Linked DNA regions of Homo sapiens. The protein of the gene in region 3 purifies or fractionates together with the protein of the main gene of each other region. This does not show direct contact. Each region holds a gene or a part of one and is shown on either strand. Other genes may lie near its edges. The genes, in order: MAN2B2, DCAF4, TCF7 and RBFOX3.

Evidence for each region.
Region 1: the proteins of TCF7 (region 3) and MAN2B2 purify together in Homo sapiens (affinity purification with mass spectrometry; one large-scale study listed by BioGRID and IntAct). This does not show direct contact.
Region 2: the proteins of TCF7 (region 3) and DCAF4 purify together in Homo sapiens (co-immunoprecipitation; one large-scale study listed by IntAct). This does not show direct contact.
Region 4: the proteins of TCF7 (region 3) and RBFOX3 purify together in Homo sapiens (affinity purification with mass spectrometry; one large-scale study listed by BioGRID and IntAct). This does not show direct contact.

Annotation. Positions count from the first base shown.
Region 1 is NC_000004.12:6,607,963-6,613,188, forward strand, and holds part of MAN2B2 (epididymis-specific alpha-mannosidase isoform 1 precursor), read left to right. Parts: intron 1-1,144; coding exon 1,145-1,336; intron 1,337-1,835; coding exon 1,836-2,088; intron 2,089-2,917; coding exon 2,918-3,028; intron 3,029-3,123; coding exon 3,124-3,316; intron 3,317-5,226.
Region 2 is NC_000014.9:72,951,973-72,959,797, reverse strand, and holds the end of DCAF4 (DDB1- and CUL4-associated factor 4), read right to left. Parts: intron 5,638-7,825; coding exon of another isoform or gene 5,635-5,637; coding exon 5,536-5,634; intron 5,413-5,535; coding exon 5,315-5,412; intron 4,276-5,314; coding exon 4,102-4,275; intron 3,413-4,101; coding exon 3,298-3,412; intron 1,187-3,297; coding exon 993-1,186; 3' UTR 95-992; downstream 1-94. UniProt on the Homo sapiens protein: May function as a substrate receptor for CUL4-DDB1 E3 ubiquitin-protein ligase complex.
Region 3 is NC_000005.10:134,140,504-134,148,328, forward strand, and holds the end of TCF7 (transcription factor 7), read left to right. Parts: intron 1-292; coding exon of another isoform or gene 293-385; intron 386-1,681; coding exon 1,682-1,801; intron 1,802-2,217; coding exon 2,218-2,380; intron 2,381-2,489; coding exon 2,490-2,597; intron 2,598-3,088; coding exon 3,089-3,137; intron 3,138-4,293; coding exon of another isoform or gene 4,294-4,508; exon of another isoform or gene 4,509-5,237; coding exon of another isoform or gene 5,238-5,348; exon of another isoform or gene 5,349-5,697; coding exon of another isoform or gene 5,698-5,720; coding exon 5,721-5,800; 3' UTR 5,801-7,707; downstream 7,708-7,825. UniProt on the Homo sapiens protein: Transcriptional activator involved in T-cell lymphocyte differentiation. Necessary for the survival of CD4(+) CD8(+) immature thymocytes. Isoforms lacking the N-terminal CTNNB1 binding domain cannot fulfill this role.
Region 4 is NC_000017.11:79,088,208-79,096,032, forward strand, and holds the end of RBFOX3 (RNA binding protein fox-1 homolog 3), read right to left. Parts: intron 7,368-7,825; coding exon 7,306-7,367; intron 6,323-7,305; coding exon 6,244-6,322; intron 4,435-6,243; coding exon of another isoform or gene 4,390-4,434; exon of another isoform or gene 3,740-4,389; intron 2,679-3,739; coding exon 2,676-2,678; 3' UTR 1,138-2,675; downstream 1-1,137. UniProt on the Homo sapiens protein: Pre-mRNA alternative splicing regulator. Regulates alternative splicing of RBFOX2 to enhance the production of mRNA species that are targeted for nonsense-mediated decay (NMD).

The DNA.
Region 1 (5,226 bases), on a different chromosome or scaffold from region 3:
TTGCATTTCCCTGCTAACTAATGGTGTTGAGCATCTCTTCATGTACTTACTGGTCACTAGCATATCTTCTGTGGTGAGATGTGTCTTTAGATCCTTTACCTATTTTTAAATTGGCTTGTCTTTTATTATTGAGTTGTAAGAGTTCTTTATATATTCTAGCTACAAGTCCCTTGTCAGATTTATGATTTGCAAATCCCTCCTCCCATTCCATGGCTTGTCTTTTTACTCTTTTGATGGCCCCTGGGGGAGCTTTTTAAAAGGATCGTGCGGGGAAGGGGTCCAGGGCCAGAGGCCTCAATTCTTTTCTTTCTCCTCCTCCACCAGCACTCAGTAGAACCCTCCACAGCCTGCCTCCCTTTCCTTCCCCACCCTCACCACAATCCCACAGAGAAGTGGGTGCAGAGGCCATCCACCTCATTGTCCGCCCACAGCCAGGCCAGACTCAGATACAAATACATCACTTGTGCACTTGGTTAGGCCAAATATTGCATTTTACAATTAAAATACTTGACCCCCTCCTGCTCTTCTCCCATCCTCTGTCCTAACACAAACATCCTAATAGAAGGGAGGGAGCACAGAATTTAAAGTCGGGGCTGAATTTGAGTTCTGGCTTGCACACTTCCTAGATGTGTGATCTTGGGTACATGATGTCACAACTTCCAGCCTCGGATGCCTCGGGAGTGGGATGGGTTAACAGTCCCTGCCTTTGGGGGTTGGGAGAATTTAACCAGGTGAAGTCAGTGAAGGCTCTGGCCCATGACATGGGGTCTGTACACATGGGTGTCCTGCTGGACAGCTCAGAGTCAGCATGACAAAAGCCCGTTCCTGCACTGGTTTCGCTTGCAGACCACAGCCTGGGTGAGCCAGTTCCATCTCTTGGGGGTGCCCTCTGCTGACGGCTCACGGTTCCTGTCTGCAGGCTCTGTCCGTCTCCTCGTTTGTGACCCATTCTGGGACAGCATGGAGTCTAAGGCCACACTGGCTGTGGGTGGGGTCTCAGGGCTTCTAGATGAGCTGAGTCACATGGCCTCGTGAGTGCTACGCAGGCCACTCAGATGGCATCTGGAGAGAGAGGCTTGCCAGCCGGTGTCTGTAAGACCTTGTGCAGGATGAGAATGACATCTTCTCTCTCCTGCCTCTGCAGACAGAGTAACCGAACGGTGCGCGTGACCCAGGAATTCCTGGAGTACCACGTCAACGGGGATGTGAAACAGGGCCCCATTTCCGATAACTACCTGTTCACACCGGGCAAGGCCGCGGTGCCTGCGTGGGAAGCTGTGGAAATGGAGATTGTGGCGGGACAGCTTGTGACTGAGATCCGGCAGTACTTCTACAGGTGCTTCCCCTGGGGTGACCCCCACAGCCCGGCACACAGTCAGCGCACGCGTGCAGGCAGCTCAGTGAATGAGGGTCTGTCTTTGCTCTGAACCCCAGCTTCCGGGCCGTGGTTGACACGTGGTCTGATGAAGAAATGAATTGCTCTGGTGTCTGCATGCTGGCTGCGTTTGCGTGTGCTGTGTCACGTTGGTTGGGAGCTAAGTTCAGAGCTGGGAGAGAGACCCACAGACCCTGGGGCCCACAGAGCACCTGTTCTTCCATGATCAGAGCAGACGTAAGGCAGGCCCGGCATGGCAGCCCTGCGGTGTCGGGGAACCAGGCTGCTCCCAGCCGCTCGGGGTCCTGGGTGGTGCTATTGTCCACATGGCCCAAGAAGGCTCCCTGCCTTTCGGCGTACCCTGCCCTGCCCACCCTGCCCACATGAAGGAAGGGAAGCAAAAAGGAAGCATCTAGAAGGTTCCTGGAGCTTCACTTACTGATGCTCCCTTCTCCTCCAGGAACATGACAGCACAGAATTACACGTATGCAATCCGCTCCCGGCTCACCCATGTGCCGCAGGGCCATGACGGGGAGCTGCTCTGCCACCGGATAGAGCAGGAGTACCAAGCCGGCCCCCTGGAGCTGAACCGTGAGGCTGTCCTGAGGACCAGCACCAACCTAAACAGCCAGCAGGTCATCTACTCAGACAACAACGGCTACCAGATGCAGCGGAGGCCCTACGTTTCCTATGTGAACAACAGCATCGCCCGGGTATGTCCTGCAATGCCCACAAGGCACGCTCCCAATGGCGCCTTTCCTGGACCCATTAAGCATCAAATTGCAGCAGTAGAGGCCAGTAGAGGCCTCCAGTGAGAATGTTTTTTTCCTTTTTTTTAAGATGGAGTCTCACTCTGTCACCCAGGCTGGGGCGCAATGGAGCGATCTTGGCTCACTGCAACCTCTGCCTCCCAGGTTCAAGCGATTCTCCTGCCTCAGCCTCCCGAGTAGCTGGGATTACAGCCGCCTGCCACCATGCCCAGCTAATTTTTATATTTTTAGTAGAGATGGGGTTTCACAATGATGGCCAGGCTGGTCTTGAACGCCTGACCTCAGATGATCCACCCGCCTCAGCCTCCCAAAGTGCTGGGATTACAGGTGTGAGCCACCGCGCCCGGCCTCCAGAGAGAATTCTTTTAAAGCCTGTGTATCTGCCCGTTCAGGGCTTGAGCGTGCAGGCTGTGAGTCAGACTGGTGTCTGAATTCTGGTGCTACCACAGACAAGAATAGTATGTGCCTTGGCTTGTGCCTCGGTTTCCTCTCCTGTAAAATGGCTCCTTCATCAAAGGGTCATTCTGAGGATCCATGAGATGATGCGTGGCCAGGGCTTGGCCAGGGCCTGCACCCATGTCAGCTGAGCTGTATGCTAGGAAGCCACAGAGCTGGTGTCTGAACCCCAGTCTGTTGGTCTCCAAAGTCAGGGTCCCAGCCCCATGCTGCTGCTGTGCCTATGGGGAGCACCAGCTGGGGTGGCCAGAGGGTGATGCCTGACCTACCTTGCCCTTTGCCCCAATCGCCCACCTGGCGATGTTTCTGTCTGCAGAATTACTACCCCATGGTTCAGTCGGCCTTCATGGAGGATGGCAAAAGCAGGCTTGTGTTGCTGTCGGAGCGGGCACATGGCATCTCCAGCCAAGGGAATGGGCAGGTGGAGGTAGGAGGCACGGTCTGTCCTACAGCAGCCCCTCGCGGCCCCCTACAGGCATGCCCAGGTGCAAGCCGGGCCTCTCGGACAATGCCTTCCCGCAGGTCATGCTCCACCGGCGGCTGTGGAACAACTTCGACTGGGACCTGGGCTACAACCTCACGCTGAACGACACCTCAGTCGTCCACCCAGTGCTCTGGCTTCTGCTGGGATCCTGGTCCCTCACCACTGCCCTGCGCCAGAGGAGCGCACTGGCGCTGCAGCACAGGCCCGTGGTGCTGTTCGGAGACCTCGCTGGTAAAGGGGCACCCTTTCAGAGTAACATCATCACTGCCTCAGCACCAGCCAGGCCAGGGCGGGCCTTGGGAGGGGCCTGTGCCCTCATGACTCTGGGCAGCTTTTGGGCAGGAAGCGACCTCAGGGACCTCTAGCCCAAGCCCCTCATTTAACAGATGGGCAAACTGAGGGCAAACAGTGGCTCACTTAAGGTCATACAACTAGGAGGTACAGAGCTGGGACTCACCCATTTCACCATATGCCTCTTCCCTGTATCTTCTCCATTTTCTTCTCTGATGTATCTTTTCCTTTCTTAATATGACATTATGTCACCATGTCACTTTAGGTCTGGAGGCTTAGCATTTAAAAGACTGGTTTGTTAGCTGGGCATGGTGGCGCATGCCTGTAATCCTGTAATGCCAGCTACACGGGAGACTGAGGCAGGAGAATCGCTTGAACCCGGGAGGCAGAGGTTGCAGGGAGCTGAGATTGCACCGTTGCACCCCAGCCTGGGTGGCAAAGCGAGACTCTGTCTCAAAAGTAAAAATAAAAGACAAGTTGGGTCTGAATCTAGGTGTGCTGTCACCAGGTGGGGGTCTTTCTAATCTATAGTCTAACCTAAAGGACTTATTCTGTACCTCCACTGAGCTTCTGTAGATCAGATCAACAACCATGTAGTTCTGTGTCTCTATAAAGTAGCAGAACATGAGAAACATTAAACAATGATTACATTTAAAGATGGTCTTTTGGAGCTGCAAGACCTAGATACAATTTGCTGCCATTCTCACTAATCCTTAAACTCTTTTCTTTTTCTACTCACCTATGGAGGTTTTGATTAGCATGTGCTTTTAAGGTTCTCCCTGCTTTGGTTTTAGAGCCAGAACCCAGGGCAGTAGCCAGCAGGCAGGCTGTCACTCACCCATGCAACAAGCATATACTGAGCACTTGCAGTGTGCCTGTGCCATACACTGGAGATGCAGAAGAGCAGCCCGGACCCAGGAGAGTTTTCCTGGGCTGTTGGACAGGGGAGGCATGCTCGTATAGAGCCAGGATTCAGGGTGGAGAAGGAGCCATGCCATAGAGGGCCTGGTGTTTCGTGGGTGTAGAGGAGTGTGAGACCACAGCTGGGAGGAGGTCAGGGATCAGGTCCAGGGGGTGTCAATTAAGGTTCTTTGGAAGTAACAGAGCCTGAAGGGGCAGCTATTTGGGCAGAGCCTGGAGAAGCTCATGGAATCTAAGGAGGAGCTGGATACAAGGTCCAGACAGGCATGGGGCAGGGCAGCTCTAGGCATATCAGGAGCAGAGGCTCACAGCCATGTCTCCCAGGACGGCCATTGAGCCACCTCTGGTTCCCTTGCTTCAGATTCCCAGAAGAGGAAATCTGATTGGCCTAGCAGGGTCAGGTTCTGCTCCCAGACCAGTCAGTGGTTCCTTCTGTGTAGCTGGGGCTTTTCCTGCAAAGGGAGATGAGGCCATGTCTGAGAAAGCCCCATGGCTGTTGTCAGCTCCATCCCACCTGGCCTCACTCTGGTCTCTGTTGGTTGCAAGTAACGGAAACCCAACTTGAACTAGCTGAGCCCCCAGGGAGAGTGTATGGTGAGGCCCACATAACCAAGGGAAGGGCAGGGTGTAATTGGGCCTCAGGGCCTGGAGCCCTCGTGAGGCTGTCCTTGTTCGTCTCTCACCTGCACTTCTCTCTGTCTGCAGACTTTCCTTCACCTCCCACCTGGGATGTGACTCTGAACAGCTCTGGGGCTGCTCTCAAAGAGCAGCTCTGTCTTCCCCACTCAAAAGGACCTAAGACTTGGACTTTCCAGTTCCAAGTGCAAAAGTCCTAGGGAAAGATTCTGATTGGTCCTACTGGGGTCAGGTGGCCCATGCCTGGACCAATCAGCATGGCCTGGGGTATTGTAAGAAGATGGTAGCTCCAG
Region 2 (7,825 bases), on a different chromosome or scaffold from region 3:
CACAGAGCAGGGTGGAGATGGACAGATGATGAGGGCAGAGTGGGTCTGGAGGGGCCCAGGGAAGCTCTCCAGGAAGGCTATGAAAGCTGGTCCCAGCAGCCCAAGCTCATGATCTCCTAAGTCATTCACAGAAGTGCATGTCACACCATGATTCTTCTCTTGGTTTTATTGTTTGGTAGAAAAACAGGCTCTTTAACACTGAATAAACATCTCACGAACTGTCGCTCCTAGATTACAAAAAGTCAAAACCAATTTCCTTTGACGCCGGGCCCTTGAATCTGACATTCAAGTCACCGTAATAGAAACCAGAGCTGCTGAACCTTACATTCTGGAAGGTGCTTGAACAAAGGCATGTTAAGGACCGTTTAAAACTTCTAGCATGTAAGAAGATCCATCTTTCCTTCCAACGCCTTTGGATAATAACAGCAGAATCCCGGAGATCTGCTGCTGAGTTTGAGAAGGCCAAGTTTAAGGATTCCAAACTCCAGCCTTCAATATTTCTGCAGAAACTTAGAGAAGTAACCTCCCCGTCCTCTCCGCTGGCTTCCCCAAGTACAGATGCAGGATGCAGGTCTTTCTTCCTGCTACCCAGGCACCGAGGACTCAAACCATCTCACCGTCTCATCACTGGGCTTCTTCAATGGGCTCTTGGAGGAAGAAGCTTTTCGTTTTTGCCAATCTTCAGTCCTTAGAAAAGTCCTTTTTGTTAAGAAAAGGCAGGGAGGGTTAACTAAGTTCTAAGAATTCAATAAGAAAAGGAAAGAGGTACCTTTTATGAAAAGGACTTCCAAGCTCTCTCAGCCAGCAATTTAACTCAAATAACTTTCCTGAGCATCTCCACACGGAACATTCAGCACTTCTCTCCTAGCAGCCAGAGGATGGGATCTGTGTACACTGAGTGTCACTTAAAACACCCTCATTAGATGCAGTAAAAAGTTACGCTTTACTCCCGTAAGTCAAATCCACATGGCTCTGGGCTGTGCCCTGCAGAATTAGCTGTAGGAGTAACAGTAAAGGTCCTGCCCGACAGCCATGAGCAGCCCCGGCGCGCCCCGGGAGCCCCCCAGCCGCGACGAGAAGGCCACACTGGGAATGTCGGCCTTGGAGGCAGGGTACGGGGAGGGTATGGTTCTCAGTAGGCGGGCATCGTGGAGGCTCCAGATTCTCGTGTAGCAGTCCTGGCCCACTAGGAAAGAGGAGAGACACATGGCAGGCTAGTGAGAGAATGCAAAGGAAAACTTACCTACATGTGGACATGGCTTCCCAAGATTCCTCAGGGCTGTGATTTCATGTGAGCCAAAACACAAACTCATTAACGGACAGTATTTCTACGGATAACCCAAGTCGCCCTGTTGTGCTAGAACAATGACAAGATGCCCTGGTTGGCTGTGTGATGCCATGAATGGCTCGGAGACATCCTGGCTAATGTCTGGGTATTCTGCTGCTCTTGATGTCACGGAACGTTCAAGTGCGAGTGTGGCCCACCTGGTCTAGGTGACATGCAACTGATTTCCCCCATTTTTTAGGGACAGGGTCTTGCTCTGTCGCCCGGGCTGGAGTGCAGTGGTGTGATCAGGGCTCACTGCAGCCTTGAACTCCTGGGCCCAAGCCATCCTTCTGCCTCAGCCTCCTGAGTTAACTGGGACTACAAGTGTGTGCCGCCATGCCTAATTTTTTTTTTTTTTGAGATAGGGTCTTGCTGTGTTGCCCCAGCTGGTCTTAAACTCCTGGCCTCAAGCTCCCTAAGTGCTGGAATTATAGCTACCACACCTGGCCTGATCTTTTCATGTTATAGTAAAAGATCTGTCAAAGTCATTACATCCTGGGGATGGGCTAGGTTGACAACTCTCCCCACAGCTCTTTCTGGTTTAATGCTTCAGTTCCTAGGACCGGTTTAAGTCTTCAGGGCTCCAGTTCTGAGGACTGTGACACACAACAGCATGGGTTACAGCAGCCCAGAAACATGATATACACTACTGGAGACCTTCAGCAGGAGAAGAGGACAGGCCTTGGGCAGTCATGGATTTCACATTTGTGATTCTGATCACTTGTGTGGCTCTAAGACCAGAAGTGCTATCTTGGCTGAAGCTGAATCCCGGCTGCAGTTTATTACTGCAGCTGGTAACTACCTGCATCTGCCTCTCAGCAAGGCTGAGCTCTCTCTATCATCCAGCTCACAAGAGCTCTTCTGTGATAAAAACAGGTGAAAAATCGACTTAAAAAGGAGGCGAAGTCCTGGTGTTGATGAGAATAGTAAATAAGTCTATGAATGTCCTAACAAAGTAATGCTTCCTAGCCACAAAAATGTTCCATGGGGTATAAGCCCTTTCTATAGGAATACCAGTAGAGGTGACAATTCTTGAAGACTGAGAACACATTCTGCAGTGTCAGCAGCTACTATTTCAGTGTGAAAGCATTGAGCCTGCACACTGTCTGATTACGCTATAGCCACCATCATCTGTAATCAACTGGTAACTCCCTTCCAGGGGGCTTAGTGGCCAGATAGCTGCTCCTAATCTGCAGATCATGGAGCCACAGGGATGGTAGTAAAGGGGCCACAAATCTTTTTTATTTATTTATTTATTTTGAGACGGAGTCTCGCTCTGTTGCCAGGCTGGAGTGCAGTGGCGTGATATCGGCTCACTGCAACCTCCGACTTCCTGGTCCAAGCAATTCTCCTGCTTCTGACTTCCGAGTAGCTGAGAGATTACAGGCAGGTGCCACCATGCCCAGTTAATTTTTGTATTTTAGTAGAGATGGGGTTTCACCATGTTGGCCAGGATGGTCTCAATCTCCTGACCTCGTGATCCACCCTCCTTGGCCTCCCAAAGTGTTGGGATTACGGGCGTGAGCCACCGCGCCGGGCCGGGGCCAAGAATCTTTACAATGACCATAACTTCTTTTCTCAGCATCCTCTGGTGGAAATGTGAGTAGAGACAACAGGGAGCCCAAGTTTTTGGATAAGATAGTTGCGTGGTGGAATAATGCTGGCCTGATGAAATCCACTCAAACTCCAAACCCAGGCTCCCCAGGACCTCCCCACCTGCCTGTTTCTGAAGTGACGTTTGCCCACTGACATGGGATGAGGCTGTCCACCTGGTGGACATTTATTTACACTCCTGATTACTAATATAATCTAATTCTACTTCCCTCCTAGTCTCCCCACCCAGCTGTCCACACTCCCCTTGATTCAGTTCTGTTTTGGGGTAACTTTTCCCTCTGCTGCTGAAGTTGCTGGGATCGCCCCTGAGAGACAGTATTTGATGGGGTGGAACTTCCCCTTCCTTCCTCAAGTACCTGCCACCAGGATTCCTTCTTCCTCGTGCACATGCAGGGGCAGGTAGGCGTACTCATTCACGTGGCCTTCGTACTGCCTTACGCACTTCGTGGTCCTCAGGTCCCACAGCTTGATCTGTGGAAAAAGCACCAGGGGCCATCAGGGAGGGGCCAGGGGGTACCATGGTGGTCCCCAAGTGCAAAGCCAGGAAGGCAAGGTGGTCTCCAGTGGCCTGTGCAGGTCATGAAGATCTCCATCTCGAATTCTTGAGCCTTGTTGTTCATCAAAAGCATGTAACCAGGCCGGGCACGGTGGCTCATGCCTGTAATCCCAGCACTATGGGAGGCCAAGGTGGGCAGATCATGAGGTCAGGAGTTCGAGACCAGCCTGACCAACATGGTGAAACCCCATCTCTACTAAAAATACAAAAATTAGCCGGGCGCAGTGGCGGGTACCTGTAATCCCAGCTACTCAGGAGGCTGAGGCAGGAGAATCGCTTGAACCTGAGAGACAGAGGTTGCAGTAAGCCAAGATAGTACCACTGCACTCCAGCCCGGGCGACAGAGCAAGACTCCATCTCAAAAAAAAAAAAAAAAAAAAAAAAAAGGACATAACCAGAGAATCCTTTTCACTTTTGTTTACGTCAGATTAGGCTCATATGGTCAACGAAGCAGTCCCCATGCAGGGCCTACAAATCACTTGGTCTTCAGCGAAATTCCCCTGCCTGGGGTCTTGGTGTGAGGACCTCTTCAGCAGAACCCTTTCACCTGGCAGGGCACTGGGCCACGAGACCCTGTGGCCTGAGAAAGTCCATGATCCCCTACCTTTCCAGCCATGTCTGAAGCCATCAGGTATTGCTCATCTTGGAGGATCCGCACAGAGGTCACTGCTGAATCATGAAACAGGCGGGTGGCCTTCCATCCCTTGCCTTGATTTCCACAACGCAGATCAATGGCAAAGATTTCCCCAGAGCGGCAGCCATTAAACAGCAGAGGAGCCTGTGGAAAGAGGGACTGCTCAGTGCCTGGCTATCATGACATCCCTCTGAGGCTGGGCAGGGCAGGTCCTCCTGATACAACCCCTCTTCCAGCCTCTGGGTCAGACGGTGTGATTAGACACGTGCTGGTCAGGGTTTGGGTCTCAATGGAGTTGGAAGGGAGGATGATTCCTTGTTAGTGGCTAGAAGAACCAGACCCCATGTGTCCTCCTCATGGGTAGCACGGAGGTCCTAGGAGCTGCCCCCCACCCCCCTGCACTGTCCCGTTTGGCCTTTCTCTCTGAAGTCCCAGAGATAGCATTCCATCTCCACCAAAAGCAGGTTAGTGGGTTCATTCACTTTTAAGGGAAGACGGCATTTTCTAGAGAAAAGTCTGTGAAATATAGTAATGACCACAATTTTTTTTTTTTTTTGAGACAGAGTCTTGCTCTGTTGCCCAGGCTGGAGTGCAGTGGTGTGATCTTGGCTCACTGCAACCTCCGCCTCCCGGGTTCAGGCAATTCTCCTCAGTCTCTCGAGCAGCTGGGATTACAGGCGCCCAGCACTATGCCTGGCTAACTTTCGTATTTTTAGTAGAGAAGGGGTTTCACCATCTTGGCTAGGCTGGTTTTGAACTCCTGACCTTGTGATCCACCCATCTTGGCCTCCCAAAGTGTTGGGATTACAGCCATTCATTAGCCACTGTACCTGGCCTGATTTTTTAAACATATAAAATATATAACCTGGGAGCTGTGAAGAATTGGTGTTTGGCTTATACATTTTAAAAATGGTTTGTCCTACTGGGTAAATCCAAGTACCCAAGAACTGCTCACAATACCTTTCCATGAGAGGTTGTGTAGAGCAACTCAGGCCAGCCTTTCTGGATCAACCAACTTTCACTCGGCTCAGACACCCTTACAAAGGAACCCACTGATCCTTTCTGATGCTCTTTCTCCCCTGTCAAAGAGTACTAGATGGCACACAGAGGAGTCCAATTTCAATCTGGCCAAATTTCTACATGGGGCAAACTTTTATATTCTGCCTGTCCCAATCCAACCAACCATGAGAGCAAACTGCTGGGCCAAGACATCACTGTTGGTCCCAAAGGACTGCCGGTGTCCCGTCACCACGTTGGTCAACAGGACCCGCCGAGACAAGCCTGGCGGAGACAGAGATGGGCTGGTAAGATTATGTCACATGTAGTCTGGGGAGAGGGACAACTACATGGGGTTTTAAGGCCTGTTAAGGCCTCTTCTCTGGGCACCTGGGGAGCCAGGCTCACCTGTACTGAAGCAGTTATTTGCTTGGATATTCAGGGACCAGGCACAGGACCAGGCACCAGGGATCCGGAAACTGCAGAGCATGCCAGGCCGGTCTATTCCTGCTAAGGGGATAGGAGAATGTAAAGTGTGGCTGCCTTCTAGGCAGGCCAGGGACCACTGGGTTCGGAAAACATCCAAATATGCCCATAGCTGCTCAGAGGGTCTATACCTTTGGCCCCATTCTGGGTTTTGTGGTTGCAAGAGAGACTCAGCTGGGATGCCTGGCTCACAAGTGGTTATTCCGAAAATGCATCTTTGTTAACGTTCCCAGTAGTCGTGTTTACAGTACGAATAGTACTGATATCAGGGAGGTAGTATACTGTTGGAGGTAAGGTGGCTCCGATCCTCGATCACCTACCAGCTATGTGATCTCAGGCAAGTGTGTGTGTATATACACACACACACACACACACACACACACACACACACACACACACACAAATAAATAAATAAATAAACTATATATATATATATATATATATATATATATTTTTTTTTTTTTTTTTTTTTTTTAAGACAGGGTCTTGTTCTTTTGCCCAGTCTGGAGTGCAGTGGCGTGATCATGGCTCAATGCATCCTCAACCTCCCAGGCTCAAGGAATCCTCCCATCTCAGCCTCCCAAGTAGCTGGGATCACAGGTGTGAGCCACCACACATGGCTAATTATTTATTTTTTGTAGAGATTGGAGTCTTGCTATGTTGCTCAGGCTGGTCTTGAACTCCTGGGCTCAAACGATTATCCTGCCTTGGCCTCCCAAAGTGTTGAGATTACAGGCATGAGCCACTGTGCTTCGAAAAAATATTTTTTAAAATAAACTTTTGCATTGATAGAACGTACAGATTGTAAGGATACAGTTCAGTGAGTTATCACAAACTAAATATAGCCATGTACCCACCACCCAGGTTAAGAAATAAAACAATCCATGCCAGGCGTGGTGGCTCACGCCTGTAATCCCAGCACTTTAGGAGGCCGAAGCGGGTGGATCACCTGAGGTCGGGAGTTCGAGACCAGCCTGACCAACATGGAGAATCCCATCTCTACTAAAAATACAAAAATCAGCCGGGTGTGGTGGTACATGCCTGTAATCCTGGCTACTTGGGAGGCTGAGGCAGGAGAATCGCTTGAGCCCCAGAGGCGGAGGTTGCGGTGAACTGAGATCGTGTCATTGCACTCCAGCCTGGGCAACAAGAGTGAAACTCCATCTCAAAAAAAAAAAAAAAAAAAAAAAAAGGCCGGGCATTGTGGCTCACACCTGTAATCCCAGCACTTTGGGAGGCCGAGGCAGGTGGATCACGAGGTCAGGAGTTCGAGACCAGCCTAACCAACATGGTGAAATCCCGTCTCTACTAAAAATACAAAAATTAGCCGGGCGTGGTGGTGTGCGCCTGTGATCTCAGCTACTTGGGAGGCTGAGGCAGGAGCATTGCTTGAACCTGGGAGGCGGAGGTTGTGGTGAGCTGAGATCGTGCCATTGCACTCCAGCCTGGGCAATAAGAGCAAAACTCCGTCTCAAAAAAAAAAAAAAAAAAAAGACAAGACAAGACATAAAACAATCCAGTACCCCAGAGGCCTCCCTCACATCCCTTTCCCAATTACTACCTCCCCAAAGGGTACTGTGAGCCTGACCTCCAACACTAAAAATTACTTTTGTAAGACAAATTCTGAAACTGTCTGCCTCAGTTTCCTTATCTGTAAAATGGTGGTAAGACACACTCCTGCCTCATAAGCTTGCTGTGCAATGAAATACCAGGCACTGGGCTAAATGTGCATGATCTCACCTAATTCTCCACGGATGTGGACTGAGAAGGCCCTGTCCACTTTAGAGAGGTTCAACATTCCATTCAAGTTGGCAAGGGGCAGAGCTGGGATTCGTGCCAGGTCTGCCTGAAGCCCACACTCTTAAGAGGCCTCTCACCCTGGTCTTATTGATCCTAATTTTCTGATAGACTGAAATGTAATATCCAGAATGCTGTCAGGAAGGAGGAGTCAAATTGCCTTAACGTAGGCAGACTGTTAAGTATCCCTGATAGCACCTGAGGTGCTTTGGACCTTCAGAGGTGTTTTCTGAATGATGTGCACGGGCGTCCGAATCTGTTCTGAGCTCACGCTGGTTTACATGCGTGTTAAGTCTGCTCTGGCTGCTGAAATGACTGAAATGGCCCAAGATGGGTAAAAAGGGGCAGATGCTGTAAAAAAAACACATGCTTCTGGTACTAACCCTGGGACAGGCTTAGGGAATCCTCCCACAGT
Region 3 (7,825 bases):
CCAGGACAGATATCAGCCCTATACCGTCAAAGAAACAGAAGCAGGCTGGAGGGGCCCAGGGGCCTGCTAAGCTGGGTCCCAGGAGAAGGATACCATTTCCATCCCTCAAGCACCCATACAAGTTTATAGAGGGAAACCGCACAAGCTGCCCTCTGGTGGCAGATGCTTGAAATTCCAGCAGAGGCCCATCTGTCTCACAGGATGGGTCAAGGCCTGCCTAGCAAGGTAGGGAAGTCTTTCCTCGTGTCTGGCCAGCAGCCAGACTGCTAACAGCTATCTCTCCCAACCACAGGCCCAGCCCTCCTCTCTACCCCCTGTCCCCTTCCTGCGGATATAGACAGCACTTCCCTGCCCCCACTGCAGCCCCTGGCGCCCCCTACCCCAGGTGAGTCCCCTACACTGCAGCTAGGCTCCTGCTTCCTGTTGCCCAGGCTTCAGAGCCCACACAAGGCCATGCCCAGGCCAGTGCTTGCCCTGTGTTAGTCGTTTGTCCATCTGTCCGTCTGTCATTTTGCAGCCCCCTGCTGTCCTGTGCCTGAGAATGAAGCTAGTGCAAGTGCCAAGAGGCCTCAGCCTGGGCCACACCGTGCAGCAGAGCACCACAGAGGCCAGGACAGTACAGGCATATGTGGCTCAGCCCGTGTGCAGATGTGTGTGCACTCACCTCTGTTCTTCATCCCTACTTAGAAGGACTCTCCTGGGCATCCCCTGAGCTTTGCCCAAGCTGAGACAGCACCTTTTACCTAAGTCCCCAACCTCTGACCCTTAGGGGCTGCTGGCTCAGGGATAATACCTGTGCAAGCAGTAAGGGGCAGAATGGTCTCCACAGAATAGCAAGAAAGTGAAGTGGGAGGTGTGTGTACATGGATCCCTTCACTTAGGTCACTCCTTCAGTGACAGACTCAGTGCAAATATGCAATGGCAGGGGATTCCACAGACATTTGCTGCCCACTGGAGCTCACAGCCCAGTATAGCAAGTGTAGACATGGCACCGGCAGCTTAATGGGCCAGCTGAGTGATGGGGAAGCCCCAAGGAGACCTCACCAGGCCTGATGGGTCAGGGAGAGCTTCGCGGAAAGAGTAATAGATCTTTTGCGAGAAGAAAACAAGGGAACAGCCATAACTGGGGCTGCCGGGGAACGGAGAGGGACAGGAAGCAGAGGAGAAGAGAAGGGGCTAGCAACAGCAGCAGGATGCTCATGCAGGGCTGTGCAGGCCCTTGGGAGCAGCCTGGGTTCTATTCTTTGGACGCTGGGGGAATTTCAGCCGAAGCAGGCCAGGAACATTCAGGTGTCTCTAATGGTTACTCTGGCTATTGTGTGGAGAGAGGCCTGGAAGGGTCAAGCAGGAGAGGGATGAGGCCTCACAGGGCAGCCACAGGCTCCTGAGGCTGGGTTGGTAGGGGAAGGACGTGAGAAGGGGACAGATTCAAAAGCTACTTGGGACCTATGTAGTAACCATCTGAATGGCAATCTATGTAGATTTTTGCAGTGTGTCTGTGTAGTGTGCTGGGAGCAGGTATTTGTATTTATCTCTGTGTACTTATGTCTAGGCCAGTAGGATAGAGTATCTATCTGTTCACCTGTGTCCTCAAGTTATGTATTATGCAGGGGCCTCTGTGTGTGTCCAAAGGTCTGGCCCATAATTCTTGGCTCAGTGTTAACTTTCTTCCTGCCTCCAGGTTCACCCACCCATCCTTGATGCTAGGTTCTGGTGTACCTGGTCACCCAGCAGCCATCCCCCACCCGGCCATTGTGCCCCCCTCAGGGAAGCAGGAGCTGCAGCCCTTCGACCGCAACCTGTGAGTGAAAAGACAATGATGGCAGGGGGTGTGTCAGTCAGGATACACATGCCTCCCCACCAGGCCTGAGGACTGCCACGAGGTCCCTGCCTAAGCTGTTTCGTGCCTCTGGCTATGTTTTTGATCCTCAGAAGTAGGAGGGGGTGGGTGGGATGGGGAACAAGGATTTTTCTGAGCCAACAGAGGAGGGGCTCAGAAGTCCTTAACACATGCTTTTCCCACTTGTCTGTAGTGTTCCTATAAGGAACAGTTACTTAGCTGTCTGCTCACCCATTTGGGGGCAGCTAGGAAAGATTCCACTTAGAAAACTCTGGTATCATACACTTAGGCACACTCTAGGCCCACGCTAGAGGAGGAGGCTGCAATTAGGTGGGCACTCGGGGGGCTCCTGAACAATCTGGATTTGTGCCCCTCAGGAAGACACAAGCAGAGTCCAAGGCAGAGAAGGAGGCCAAGAAGCCAACCATCAAGAAGCCCCTCAATGCCTTCATGCTGTACATGAAGGAGATGAGAGCCAAGGTCATTGCAGAGTGCACACTTAAGGAGAGCGCTGCCATCAACCAGATCCTGGGCCGCAGGGTGAGACCATGGGCAGGTGGGCTGGCAGGGATGCTCCCCGACCATCTTCAGCCTGGTGCAGCCTGCTGACTCCCTGATGCACCCCACCTGCCCCTCTTCCCTGTTGCAGTGGCACGCGCTGTCGCGAGAAGAGCAGGCCAAGTACTATGAGCTGGCCCGCAAGGAGAGGCAGCTGCACATGCAGCTATACCCAGGCTGGTCAGCGCGGGACAACTACGTGAGTGCCTAGTGACACACAGCAGGGGTGGGCAGGGGACCCTTTGAGATACCATGCCCCAGGCCACAATCTCAGTAAGGAACGCAGAACTACTGTCCTGAAGGCACCGATGAGGAAGGGCACGGAGGGTCCAAGGCCTCCCATGGCTGCCTCAGAAGAGGACAAGCCCACATCCTATTCTCCACTCCAGAATATGCTCACACATGAGCTGTTACCCAACATTTGATTGGGCCACATGGGCAGAAGGGGAGAAAGGGGTCTGGAAGTCACCTCCTTCCATTCAAACTGGAGACCAGATTGGGGTGAGGGAAGAGCTTCTAAATGCACTCCATAGCAGCCTAGCAAGACCAGCAATCAAGAAACACCAGCACCCCAAGGTAGGAGGGGCCTGTACGCCCAGAATCCCAGGGTTACCCAAGCTAGGCAGCAGGCTGTGGGTATCCCAATGTCTGCCTCCCAGATCTGAGCATCCCTCCTTTTGTTCCCTGCAGGGGAAGAAGAAGAGGCGGTCGAGGGAAAAGCACCAAGAATCCACCACAGGTGAGACCTTCTCTCAGCAGCAGTGGAGGCTCCTCTCCATGTCCCCATTTCAAGAGCAGCCCTCCTCTGACCCAAAGGGAGGAACGCGGTACCCAGCTAGGAGCCTTCAGGGCCTGGGGCCTATGAAAACAAGGCCTGCATCTCACAAGTCAAATTCCCATGCAAGAAACAGCTATATTATACTAAGTCCCAGGGAAACCCAGCAGAACTGGCTTCTGCTGGGTAGAATTGGAGTAGATGGTGCGTTCCTCTGCCTTGCACCCACTACCTTTGCTAGCTCCACTCACCAGAGAAACCAGCAAAGAACTGACTGTATGGTTTGATGCTTAGCCCAAACAATGTCCTGGCTAGTTCTGCTGAGACTGGGAGAGGCTGAGCTAGGCCCCATGACTAGGCCCAGTAGACACACAGCCTACTGGCTGGAGCCTGGCAATTTATCACCCCCACTTCAACATTTTTCATGGCAGTGCAAAGTGCTCTATGTAGAGAAGCCCACACCCTGCTGCAGGCCTCCTTCCTAAGGGTGAATTCCTGCCTCTCTGGTAACTGAGACTCCACATCCCTGACCACCTCAGCCGTGCTGTCCCCACACAGGGAAGCTGGAGGCTAGGACTGGGACAGAGCAGGGCAGAGTTCCTAGCCCTTTTTCCAAGGCAAAGAATAGGCCCTTCCTTCCATCTGCAAGTGTGTAGAACAGCATAAGGTATAGCCTTCAGCCTTATCCCTTGAAGGAATGTAGGTCAAGAATGAAGAAAAACTGGATAAAATGGGTAGGGAGTTGGGGAGGAGGTGGGTGGCCCTAGGGCATAAAAGGCTGGATCTCCATGGTCTTCCTTGGGCCCCTCTGCAGCCTCCATGCTGCAAGGGCCCCACAAGCCACAGAGATGAGCCAGATTGACAGGACTCCCTCCCTCCCATTCTTCCCACTGCCTCTACTGCGTACCTGGGTGCCCACCTTTCCTGATATCTTGGCTCTGGGCTCTTGGGCTCCCACTGGGGCTGGCTGTGCCATGGAGAGGCCCACTCTGCCTATGGGGGCTGTAGGGTGTCTATAACTGGCTAACACTGATGTTACCTCTTCTTTCTGGGCCCTGCTCTGCCCCGCTGCCTGCTCGCCCTCTGCCCTGCTCTACCCCTCTGGCATGGCTGTGAGCAGACCCTGGCTCGCCTAAGAAATGCCGTGCTCGCTTTGGCCTCAACCAGCAGACGGATTGGTGTGGTCCGTGCAGGTGGGTTTGTCCCCACCATCGTTCTCCCTTTGCTTTAAGCTGCTTCCCTGACTCTGCACATGTTCCACTGGGCCTGCAGCCCACTCCTTTGGCCCCTCAGCCCACTAGCATACTCAGCAGATTGGGAGCCCAGGCCTCCTGAGAATAGTAGTAAATACTGAACACAGCGCGTGGAGAAGACCACTTGGGTCTAAGTGCAGGAGGATTGGAGAGAAAGACACAGAATGTTCCAGAAAGGAAGGACAGACTCAAGAAGGCAGCTCTGATGCCAGTGGGCCTAGCAGGTCCTCAGCAAACAGACAGCTCAGCCACCACTAAGGGGGCCTGGAGCCCATTCTACCAGGCCTCAAAGTCATTATGGCCCATGGGCTCCCTCACTTCCTCTTCAAGATGGGATCCCTGCCTGTACCATCCTGAGCCCTTAATCTGAAAAAGCAAGGTGACAACAACACAGAACCATCTGGTTGCCAGGTAGCCTTATGACTTGCTATCTTGTACCTACTGATACCAAAGGGCTGGAGAGGCTGGGGGAGAGGACCCAGGGGGTACCCTGGGCTGTCTGAGGGAAAGGGCTCATGTGTTTCACCATACAACAGAGAAATACTTGTGGGTGTGACAAGGTTTACCCAACAAGTGGTTAAAGTTTCCTCAGTCAGTTTCAGGCCAGGCCTGGCAGGGCTAAGATAGAGGGTACTCCAGGCAGTAAGGCCACTGGCTCTAAGGAACACTTGTCCAGCCTCTCAGTGTACCCACCACACTCCCTGTCCAAGGGCAAGGAGGAGTTTGGGGTGTGTCTGTGTATCCACATACATATGCACGGTGGGAAACAACCCTGTCTTCAGGGGAAGTTCTATTCCATTCATTCCATCAGAGACAAACTGGCCCAGAGAACTCAAGGATGGTAATGGACAAGAGTCACTGTCCATGTCTTCTTCCTCTAGCCCAGCTTGAGGACTGGGATGGCTGGGCAAGGAAGCCATAGGCATTGCGGCCCCTTGCCTTGGTGCAGATGTGAGTCCCACAAACACATCTGGAGAAGCTCAAAGGCCGGGACTGGGAGATGACTCCCTTGGAAGACAGGAGAGATGACTCCCTTGGAAGACAGATGACAGCCCATAGGCCTAGTGACAAAAGGCCCCTTTGCCACCTTGTGGCTGTTCTGGGAACTGCACCTGTCCTAGGTCTGGGCCAGACCAAGCAGAATGGCAGTCTGAGGACACTGACTTACCACCCAAGTCCCAGGAAGAGAGGACAAGGAATCAGCCAGGCCTGTGCAAAGGCAGCATTTTTTGGTTGTGGTGTATGACTATGAATTCACCCTCTGTTTACAGATAACTCTCTTCACTATTCCTAGGAGGAAAAAGAAATGCATTCGGTACTTACCCGGAGAAGGCCGCTGCCCCAGCCCCGTTCCTTCCGATGACAGTGCTCTAGGCTGCCCCGGGTCCCCAGCTCCCCAGGACTCACCCTCATACCATCTGCTGCCCCGCTTCCCCACAGAACTGCTTACTAGCCCTGCGGAGCCGGCACCTACATCCCCAGGTCTCTCCACTGCTCTCAGCCTCCCAACCCCAGGGCCCCCACAGGCCCCCCGCAGCACCCTGCAGAGCACACAGGTACAGCAACAGGAATCTCAGAGACAGGTGGCCTAGCAGGCACAGGACACCTGGCCGCCTCCAGGAGCCTACCCCCTGAAAGTGACAGAGACCCAGATCTCATGGAAACTGGCCAGGGGTCCTGTTAACGTCATCTCAGGGTCCAGACCCTGAAGATTTCAGAGGCTGCAGGACTTCTGCCTGAACCTGGGGTCATCGATTCAAACTGCTCCAAGTGGTGGGAATCAGATCTGTCTTGATGTGTCATCTAATTAAGGGAATCCCTTGTACCTATGGCTGCCTGCATCTATTCTTTGTACCATCTGTCTTGCCAGCCAGAAGCCTCTGCCTCCCTAGCTTTTCTGCTATAGGTCAGAGATGGGCTGAACTGAGCCTAGCTACCTTCTCTACCCATCTCCCCCATCCCCCACTGCCACACCCTCCCCATTCAGACACTTCATGGACCAAGAATGAGCTGGTTTGTCAAACAACATGTGAGCATGGTCACAAGCACAAAGCTCAAGATGACAGCTCTTCTAAGGAAATGGAGAAGCTCTGTTTATAAAAACAAAAACAAAACCAGCTGCTACTCATAAGTTGGACCAGAGGAAGCCCCTTACTATGATCTCAGGAGCTTGCAAGAAGCAGGAAGGGGAATGGAATAGGTTAAGTTTAGGCCTATCAACCTAAGCAACAGAAATAATCTGACACTACCTTATCAGGCAAATTGGGGAGGGGAGGGTGTATCTAGCTCTAGTTCAAATTATTTGGAAGTGTTCCCTGAGAAACCCACCAGCCTAAGAAGCTCTGGCCCCAGGCTTGTCACTAGCAGCTGCAGTCAACAGTTCAAAGAAGTCATGGCCCAAATCCAGTGTGCACCCCTCCCCATTCACAGAGCCTTTTTCACAATTCCATTTCCAGTTCATCTATGGCAGTCCAGCCAGCTCCTGGGCAGCTTGAGAGGGCAAACCCAAAACCTCATGACAGCCAGAGCCTGTCTTTCAGCATTCAGTCCGCCTGGCCGGCTCCAGTTTCCCCATGGGGCTGCGGGACAGAGGACCATTACAACTAGATCAAGGAGCCCAGAAAACCTCCAGTAGTGGACAACAGGTTTTCACCATAGCCTACGTTAACCCATTTTTGAGCCAAGCTTCAACCCTCAGCCTTGAAAAACAAGTCTTTAATTTAATTTTTGTTTTTTGCCTAAATCCAAAGAAAAAGGGCTGCCGGGCCAGGCGCGGTGGCTCACGCCTGTAATCCCAGCACTTTGGCAGGCCGAGGCAGGTGGATCACCTGACGTCAGTAGTTTGAGACCAGCCTGGCCAACATGGTGAAACCCTGTATCTACTAAAAATACAAAAATTAGCCGGACGTGGTGGTGCGCGCATGTAATCCCAGCTACTCGGGAGGCTGAGGCGGAAGAATCACTTGAACCCGGGAGGCGGAGGTTCCAGTGAGCCGAGATGGCGCTATTGCACTCCAGTCTGGGTAACAGGGAGACTGCATCTCAAAAAAAAAAAAAAAAAAAAAAAAGGGCTGTCCATGTATTCACACACCCCTCAAAAAAAGCCTTTAGTTCCTACTTTAGCCACTGGTTTCTCAGAATCCAAAGATCACATATTCTAGTGTAACACTGCAAGAAGTCTTGAGAAAAAGATTATTGTAGTGTTCAAAATATTTTTGTATTGTTAATGCATCATCATAGAAAAACTTTTAAACATGAGAATAAAGATACTTTTTACTGGGTTTGTTTTTCAAAGCCTGACCCTGAGGAATAAGCTGTTTCAGTAACAGAGCATGATATTCTTTCCTTTCCTTCTCCACAGTCAGGAAACTTGGAGTTTGTTTCCTATGGTACATATGT
Region 4 (7,825 bases), on a different chromosome or scaffold from region 3:
CTTTCTGTCTCATTTGGAACCAGGGGGAACCAGGAAGGGGCTCCTGGCCTCTCTGTGTCCTCTGCAGTGGGGGTTGTGGGGGGCGCAGCATCCACGCCTTGCTGCCCTTCTTTCATGAAGTCTGTTTTTTAAGTGCTGGTTCCCCCGAATATTTTATGCAGAGGAGGGAAAATTTATAGTGGCAATTATTTTCTCACAGTCTGGTGAGCAGGCAATTAATTAGGAGTAAGGGGGCCTAGTAGAGCGTGGCGTGTGGCAGAATCGCACCGCCCCGGCTCCCCAGCCCACCGCCATGCAGGGCTCGCGTGCGGGAAAACTAATATGCCGGCGTTTAAGCCTGTGCCCCTCTGCTGGGTGTAACTGCGCTGAAATAAATGATCTGACAATGTGAAGCGTGCAGTCGAGTCCTGGTGTGATGGGGCGCGGGCAGCACCAGCCCGGCCCTGGATGCTGGCTCCCTGTCCAGCCCTGGCCCCAGCCCCAGGCTTCTGAGCTCTGGGTTCAGGTTCTGCCACTCGTCTTCCCATCTCCCCGCTCAGCTGAGCCTTTGCAGCTGTGCTCTAGCTCCTACCCACCTTCCAGGAGGGGTGACTGGGGCTGGCGAAGTGGGTTTACCTTGAAGCAACATGGCTCCTTGTGGGCCCCAACAACTCAGGCTACACCAGGCGTGCAGAACTGGCTGGAGCACCAGCCATCTATGCCTCTGTGCCATGTCCCCCCACCCTCCCAGCTCCGTGCTCTTTGTTGCACTGGGTCGACCAAGCACAGCTGTGTGGTCACCAGTTCTAACCTTTCTGCTTCCTGGGGTGCATTCTGCTCTGAGGTCACGCTGTGTCCAGCACATGCTGTAACCAGGAAAGAAGGGACCAGGGCTGGCCTCGACCTGAGTCCGAGAGGCAGGCCAGGCAGCACAGATATGCCATGAGCTGCCACCCACCCAGCCTATCCTGGGGTGGGATGCAGACGACCAGCCTGGACTTGAGGATTGGGACTGGAAAGTCTAGGGCCTTCTGACACCATTGCCACCTGGCTGTAGGCCAAGGCAGGGCTGCATCCCGTCCTGGCCCCCGTCCTGCACCCTGGGCCGCTATGCCCTCCACCCACCATGCCCGGGAGCTGCCAGAGCATACAGAGTTGTCCTGGTTTGAAGAAAGAAATCTTTATTAATAATCTTAATAATACTGTTAGTTTGAATGGTCACACCTTGGAAGCATACAGAATGGTAAGAAAGGAAGCCCGGGGCTCGGCTGCAGTCCTGGGGATCTGAGTGAGTCGGGGGGTTGAGCTGCTGCAAGAAAAGGGTCCGGAACAGCAGAGGGGACAGGGGGCTCTGTACAGAGGACAAAGCCGGAGGCAGGGCGTGGGGCTATGTACAACGGGAATAGAAAAGGAGAATTCCATTTCAATAGCTGATGCTGAATAGAAAGTGAGGTGTATTTTTAAATTTTTGACACTTCATGAGACAGTGGAGCCACGTTGGGAGCCTGTATTTTTTGCTGCTTCCCTACTTCAGTGCTCCCTGCCTCGCCAGGGGTTCCTCCCTGCCACCTGCTCTGCTCCTGCTCCTCCCACCGGGTAAGCCTGGCTGTCCTTGGTGCTGCTCCCGCCACCTGGACACCTGCCTTGGGAGCAGGGAAGGGGCCGGCCCAGGCTTCCCCATCCCTTGCCCTTCCCATGGGCCCCTGCTCTGGCTGTGCCCGTCCAGGCCCACAGCCACTGTGACTCCCAACCTCGCGATGCAGCCGGGCGCTGGCCCGTCCCTGGCCCTGGGCGCCCACGGTGGACTGGGCTCACAGGGGAGCGGCAGGGAGGGCTGGGTCCCAGCAGGCAGCACGAGGTCAGCCTTGGTGTACACAGGCCCCGGGCCTCCTCCAGAAAGGGAGAGATGGCCAGGAAGAGCAAGTAAGTCCTTGGCCTCAGGGCCCACTTGGCCACACTTGGAGGTGTGAGGAGTGGCTCCTGGCTGGCTGGGCTTCCTTCGTCCTCCCATGGAGCGCCCCTGAGTCCTGGAGCCACGTCAGCCCTTTCTGTTGGGAGCTGGCCCCGGGGCTACTGTTGGACGGCTTCCTCGCCAGGCTGGGGGCACGGGCGGGACTGCCGGGCAGGAGGGAGGTGGGACGCAGGGGACGCGACAGGAGGGTGACGGGGCCCAGTGGAGCCCCTGGGATGAAAGCTGCCCGCACCCCTCAGCCCCGCCGGCCCCCTGGCACAGCTGGCCACAAAGATCAAGTCTTGCTAGCAGCGCCTGCCTGCTCAGGCCCGGGCCTGCTCCGCCGCCGCTGGGCTCCACACTGTCTGTCTTGGGAGTTGGGGGCTGGGAAAGGAAGACTGGATGGAAAACAGAGCCCCCCACGGGTCCCACAAGGGAGGCCCCTTCCCCTCCAACTCCCCCACTGCCTGAGACGGAGGGGCGTGTTCCCACTGTGCTGCCAGCCAGGACGCGGTGGGGCCGTCCTGTCCTGGGGCCGCTCCTCGGCGCCCCTGCCGGCGTGCTCCCTCGGTGCGGGCGTGTGGCCAGGACGCGGGACTTGGACTTGGTTGGATGCCTCTTGGTTTGGTTGGTTTTTTTTTTGTTGCTTGGATCTTAACATCTTTTTTTGTTTTTTTTGTTTTGTGATTTTTTTTGTTTTTTTGTTTTTGCCCTTCATGGTCCGAGAAGGAAACGGTGGAAGGTTTCACTACAACAGAAACAGAAAGGCAGGACTTGCAGCTTCTCGGGGGAGGCACAGCAGGTGTGAAGGCGACAGGACCACGTGGCACGGGGCCCCTGGCCTAAAGTCCTGGCGCCGCCACACCTGCCCCCCAGGTTTCCAGGACCCTCATCTTCCAGGGCTGAGTGTGGGTGGATCCCAGGATGGGGCCCAGGCAGCCCAGGATGGGAGGAGACACCTGGGGCCCTGAGGAGGAGACAGAGCTGAGCAGGGCAGGGTGAGTGGAGAGGCTGGGCCAGCACAGGCTTCGAGGCGGCCTGGATGAGATGGCAGAGGGTGATGGTCTGGCCACGGGAGGTGGGGGAGCCGGGCCCCCCACGGCAAGGGCCTGGTGGGCGGCAGGACTTCAGCCCTCACTGGTGGGGAACCCACACCCTCCAGCTGGCCTTCCAGCCCCAGGAGCCCAGCCGTGGCACACTCAGAACCTGAGGCTACTTTTCCCTGTCATGGAGGTACAGATCTGTGTGCCCCAGGCCAGTGCCAGGAAAGGACTGTGCCTGTCTTGGCTGGCTTTTCCTAGGCAGGCCAGCAAGCTGCCCACGGCTGTGCTCAAGTGAGGTCCCAGCCAGTGTCTCCCCAGAAGCGCCATGCACCGGGCTGGCCAGTCCCAGGGCTGAGGAAGGAGTGGCCCGCAGGCCACAGGGCCCTGCCTGCAGTCTCCCTAATGCAGGGAGGGGACTGACCTGGGGCTGACCGGCCTGCGCTCAGGGGAGGGCCTGAGCAAGGGTGCATTCTGCCCCTCATCAGCTCTCCTGCCTGCTGAGGACCCCTCCTTCCGGAATATACCCCAATAAAGACATTTCGAAGCTTGGGGACAGGGAAAGTAGGCTGTGCCTCCAGGACAACCCCCTTGCAAGGCTGGCCTGGCCTTGGCCCTGCGGTGCTAAGGGGCTCCCTGAGGAGCGACCAGGACGTGCCTTTCCACATTTCCACTTTCTGCTGCAGCAGTGCTAAGGAGTCGCAGAGACTGGCGTGACCACAGCAGTTTGCACACCACGCGACACGCTTGTGACTACGTCGGCAAGAAATATCGTCAATAAAATTTAATGAAAAATATTAGTTTCAGCTGAATGGGGCGAGGAGGGGCAGTGGCTACTCCTGTGGTTGGCTGGGTGAAGGCCTGCGGGAGCACCCTCAGGCCGGGGAGACCCACACTGGGTGCCTGGAGCCCCTCCCTCCCTGCGTCAGGGTGCTGGACACTAGGGCCATGGCACGGGGCTGGTCGGGTGGCTTTGGGGGAGGCCCTGCCAGGCGTTTCTGTTGTTCTGTGCAGCCTGGGAGGCCAGGAAATGTGGCTCTTGCCCTCATAGGGCGCTACCGCTACTCCCAGGTTGGGGGCTGCCTGGTCTCCTGGCCCAGCCTGGACCCCACGGTGTGCACACCGTACCTGCAATGGCTTGGGTAGTACAACATCAACAAAGTCAAAATAGGAAATCACGGTTGCAGACATACAGGAAAAACCAGGGTCAAAGACACACACACCAGCACAGGTGGGGTGGGGAGACCAACTGGCTGGAGAGAAATAATCTATAGATTTTAGAGTTGCAGGGGGCCAGCCGTGCGTGTCGCTGACCGGGAGGGGTGCACTGTCTTCTGGTGGCTGTGCCTGGTTTTGGGCTGTTGGGTTTGGTGTGTAATAGGCAGTCAGTGTGAATGCTGTTAGGGGCTGGGTCTCTTGCTAGTAGGGGGTGAAGCGGCTGTACCCTCCTCGGCAGAGGCTAGCCTGCAACATCAAAGATGAAAAACAGCCAATCAGTACCGTCTTTTGGAAGAGGGGAAAAAGCAAAAAGAAAAAAAAAAAGGAAAAACAAAAAGAGAAATAGCCAAGTCTCGATTTCTTTCCCCCTATATTCCTTGGGGAGAAAGGAGTTGGGTTGTCATGGCAACAGGAAGAGTAGGACCTGCCTCTGACATAGTGGTCTTGGGCCAGTGTGGGGTGCTCTGGGGTCATGGCCAACAGTGCTTCTAGGTCACAGCTTGAGTTATGTCTGGGTCACTTCTCTGGGCTCAGGCCTGGCCTCTCACTGTCCTTATGCAGAGGGGGGGTCCCAGCTTGAGCCCCACCTCCTCGCACCCCAGCAGGGTGGCACGGGGCATCTTCAGAGCACTGAGGGACCTCCTGGCGGGTTCCTGGGCCTTGGCTCAAGAGCCTGGGGCCACTGAAGCCAGCTACGCTGGGAGAGGCAAGCCTGCTGGGCATAGTGTTCAGAGCCTTGCTCTCTGGGGGGGTCTCTGGGTCCTCCTGGGCCCACCTGAGGCCCAGCCCTGTCCTACTGGGGAGAGCGGGTCCTGGATGCTCCAGCTCTCCCATGTCCTGGGCTGCCTCCAGTCAGGGAAGGCTCTGAAGGGGCCTCCCACCCTCCCACCACCCAGTTTTCCCAGAAAAGAACAACACAGCAAGTGCAAGAGAAGAAAAATTGGGGAAAAATAGAAAATCTTAAAAATACAAAGTGAAAACACAAGAGGGAACCCTCCGTGCGTTAATGAAAGCTTTTAGCTTGCAGCTGCACGGAGGGCCCAAGAGCCAGGGTATCACACCTCCATCCGGGTGGGGCCGCACCAGACCCGCGCCTGTGGCTGCCCACAGCCACCACAGGCTGCTGGGGGTGTCTGAGGCTCGTTAAAAATTGAAAAAAAAAAAAAAAATTGGAGGGAGTCATCAAAACCAAGAAAGATGGGAAAAATCCATATTGCCTCTGAACCTCCTCCCTCCTCACTCTCCCAAGATGTTTTCATCTTTGATGCTGGATGCCAAGCTAGCTAAAACCCGTGTTCACACCCCGGGGCTGGGGCCAGTGGGTACAGGAGGCAGGTGTCTGCTGGAAGCAGCTCTGGGTGCAGAGTGAGCTGGGCTGCACGTGTCAACAGCTGGCCACACACACACACACACACACACACACACACACACAGAGACACGCCACGCCGCGCACCTCCCCGCCCCGCCCCTTCCACCCCACAGCCTGAGGGAGGAGGCTGGGGCAGAGCAGGCACTGTTTCCCCAGGACGCCAGGAGCCCCCAGGAAGCCAGGAGCTAGAGCCTGGTGAGAAGCAACCGGTAACCCACACTCCCCTCTCGGATGCGATGCGAGGGGGCTGCAGCAGTGCGGGTGGGCCGTGGGTATGCGGTGTGGGCAGAAACAGCCCCGGGGCCTTGGGAGCCTCTGCTGGGAAGGAGAGGCGGCCCTGGTTTGGTTTCTGAGGTTTTCCTGGTGGAAATGGGAATGGAGGGGCCTCAACGGGACTTTATTATAGTGAGGGAGCTCAGGGAAACGGATCAGGCACATTGGGGTGCTTTCCAGAGGACCAGATGGTACGGTGGGCTGACCAGCCATTCAACCTGCTTCCCCGCAACTGAGAGGGCGTGAGGGGCCAGCCCTCCCCTCACCCTAACTCACATCCAGGCCGTGGTCCTTCCAAAGTCTCCGGGACCAAGGCATTGGTCAGAGGGCTCGGCCTCTCCCCCAAGGGCCTCACCACCCATGCCCAGCTGTTAGGACTGGCACCCAGGGCTGGGCGGGCCTGGGCTCCTTACCATGGTTCCAATGCTGTAGGTCGCCGCGGGCCCGATGGTGTGATGGTACGGGTCGGCAGCTGCGTAGACTCTGCCGTAACTAGGGAAGAGCGTGGGAGGGGGAGTGGGAGGAGGGTGGGGGAGGGGGGCAGGTGAGGGGCAGCAACGGCCTCCCACCTCCTCCCAGACACTACATGGGCACCCTGTACCGAGGTCCCATCTGCAAGGCACCCTCCCCTCCTGCAAGGCCTGCAAGGCCTACCCCTCCTTCTTGTTAAGAAGGAAGCTTCTGGAACACAACAGGCAACCCTCTCAATATGCCCACAGTGTGCTGACCCTGACGGGGTGGGGGGAGGGGGTGTGTTCCACTCAGTGCTACGTGGAGGGGGATGGTGTCCTCATGGAGCTCGTCTGCAGGGAAAACAAACTTCCACCCCAAAAAGAATGTGGTAAATACTGGGGAGGGTTTCAAGAGAAGAGAGAGGGTCAACGAGGAGGGACCAGGAACACTGCCCCCAAGAATGTGACACTTGTGTCCCTCACGACTTTCCCTTCAGCAGTTTGTCTGTGCAGGGAACTCTCAGCTCCTTAGAGAGCAGAGCTGGGCCACGGCACCCTGTACACCACACTTCAGGGAGATGGAGCCGGGGCTGCCAGGAGGGAGGGGGTACAAGCGGTCCCCAGACCAGAGTGGTGGAGCTCAGCTACCAACAGGCCAGATGTCTGAGGGGAAAGGCACTAGGCTAGGTTGCTCCAGGAGGAAGCACTCAAGCGTCTGCCTCCAAGACAGACAGCCACTGTGGGCACGGGGCTTGCGGGGGGCGGTGGGGGGACTGGGAATCAGAGATGCGGTCTCCACCTGGGGTTTCCACAGCCTCCCCATGGGGTAAGCAGGAAGTGACTGAAGTCAGGGGCTCACTGGCTCAAGGGCCACACTCAGACCTGCTCCCCTGTCCCGACCCTACTCCCGCCAGGCCTGGAAGAGTGGGTTACGCCTCCTGCCTGTCTGGGCCCAGCTCCCCAGGGATCCTTGTCCATCTTCTCCCCACCCTGCTCCAGAACAGTGCTGGCCCCCGGCCTCACCTGTCGCTGTAGGCTGCCGCCGCTGCAGCGGGCTGAGCGTATCTGTAGGCTGCGTAGCCTCCCTGCAGGGTAAGTGGGAGGAGAGAGAGCAGAGGGACTTAGTGGGGCTCCCCAGGGAAAGGCTGAGTGGGGAGAGGAGACAGACCCTGTGCGGGTGGGGCCCTGGGAGGGACTACAGACCTTCCCAGCCTCCCAGCCTCGGCTGGGTAAGGATTAGGTGGTACCTGGCCTGGGCACCTAGTTCTGGTCTAACACAGGACCGAGGACTGCAGATGGCTAGGTGGCACAGTTCAGGGCGAGGCAGGTCTGCCTGTCCACTCCATTCATTCACTCATTCATTCACACATCCATCTGTGCACTCCACACACATTAGCGGGTACCCATGACTCATCTGGCTGGGTGCTAGGCCTTGGCAAGGAAGAGGTGCTCACAGACCTGCCACCAGGCCACTGAGGCCTGACTTGGATGCTGAGGGGCTGGGAGAACCCACAGTGACTCTGGATAGTGTCCTGGACACCAG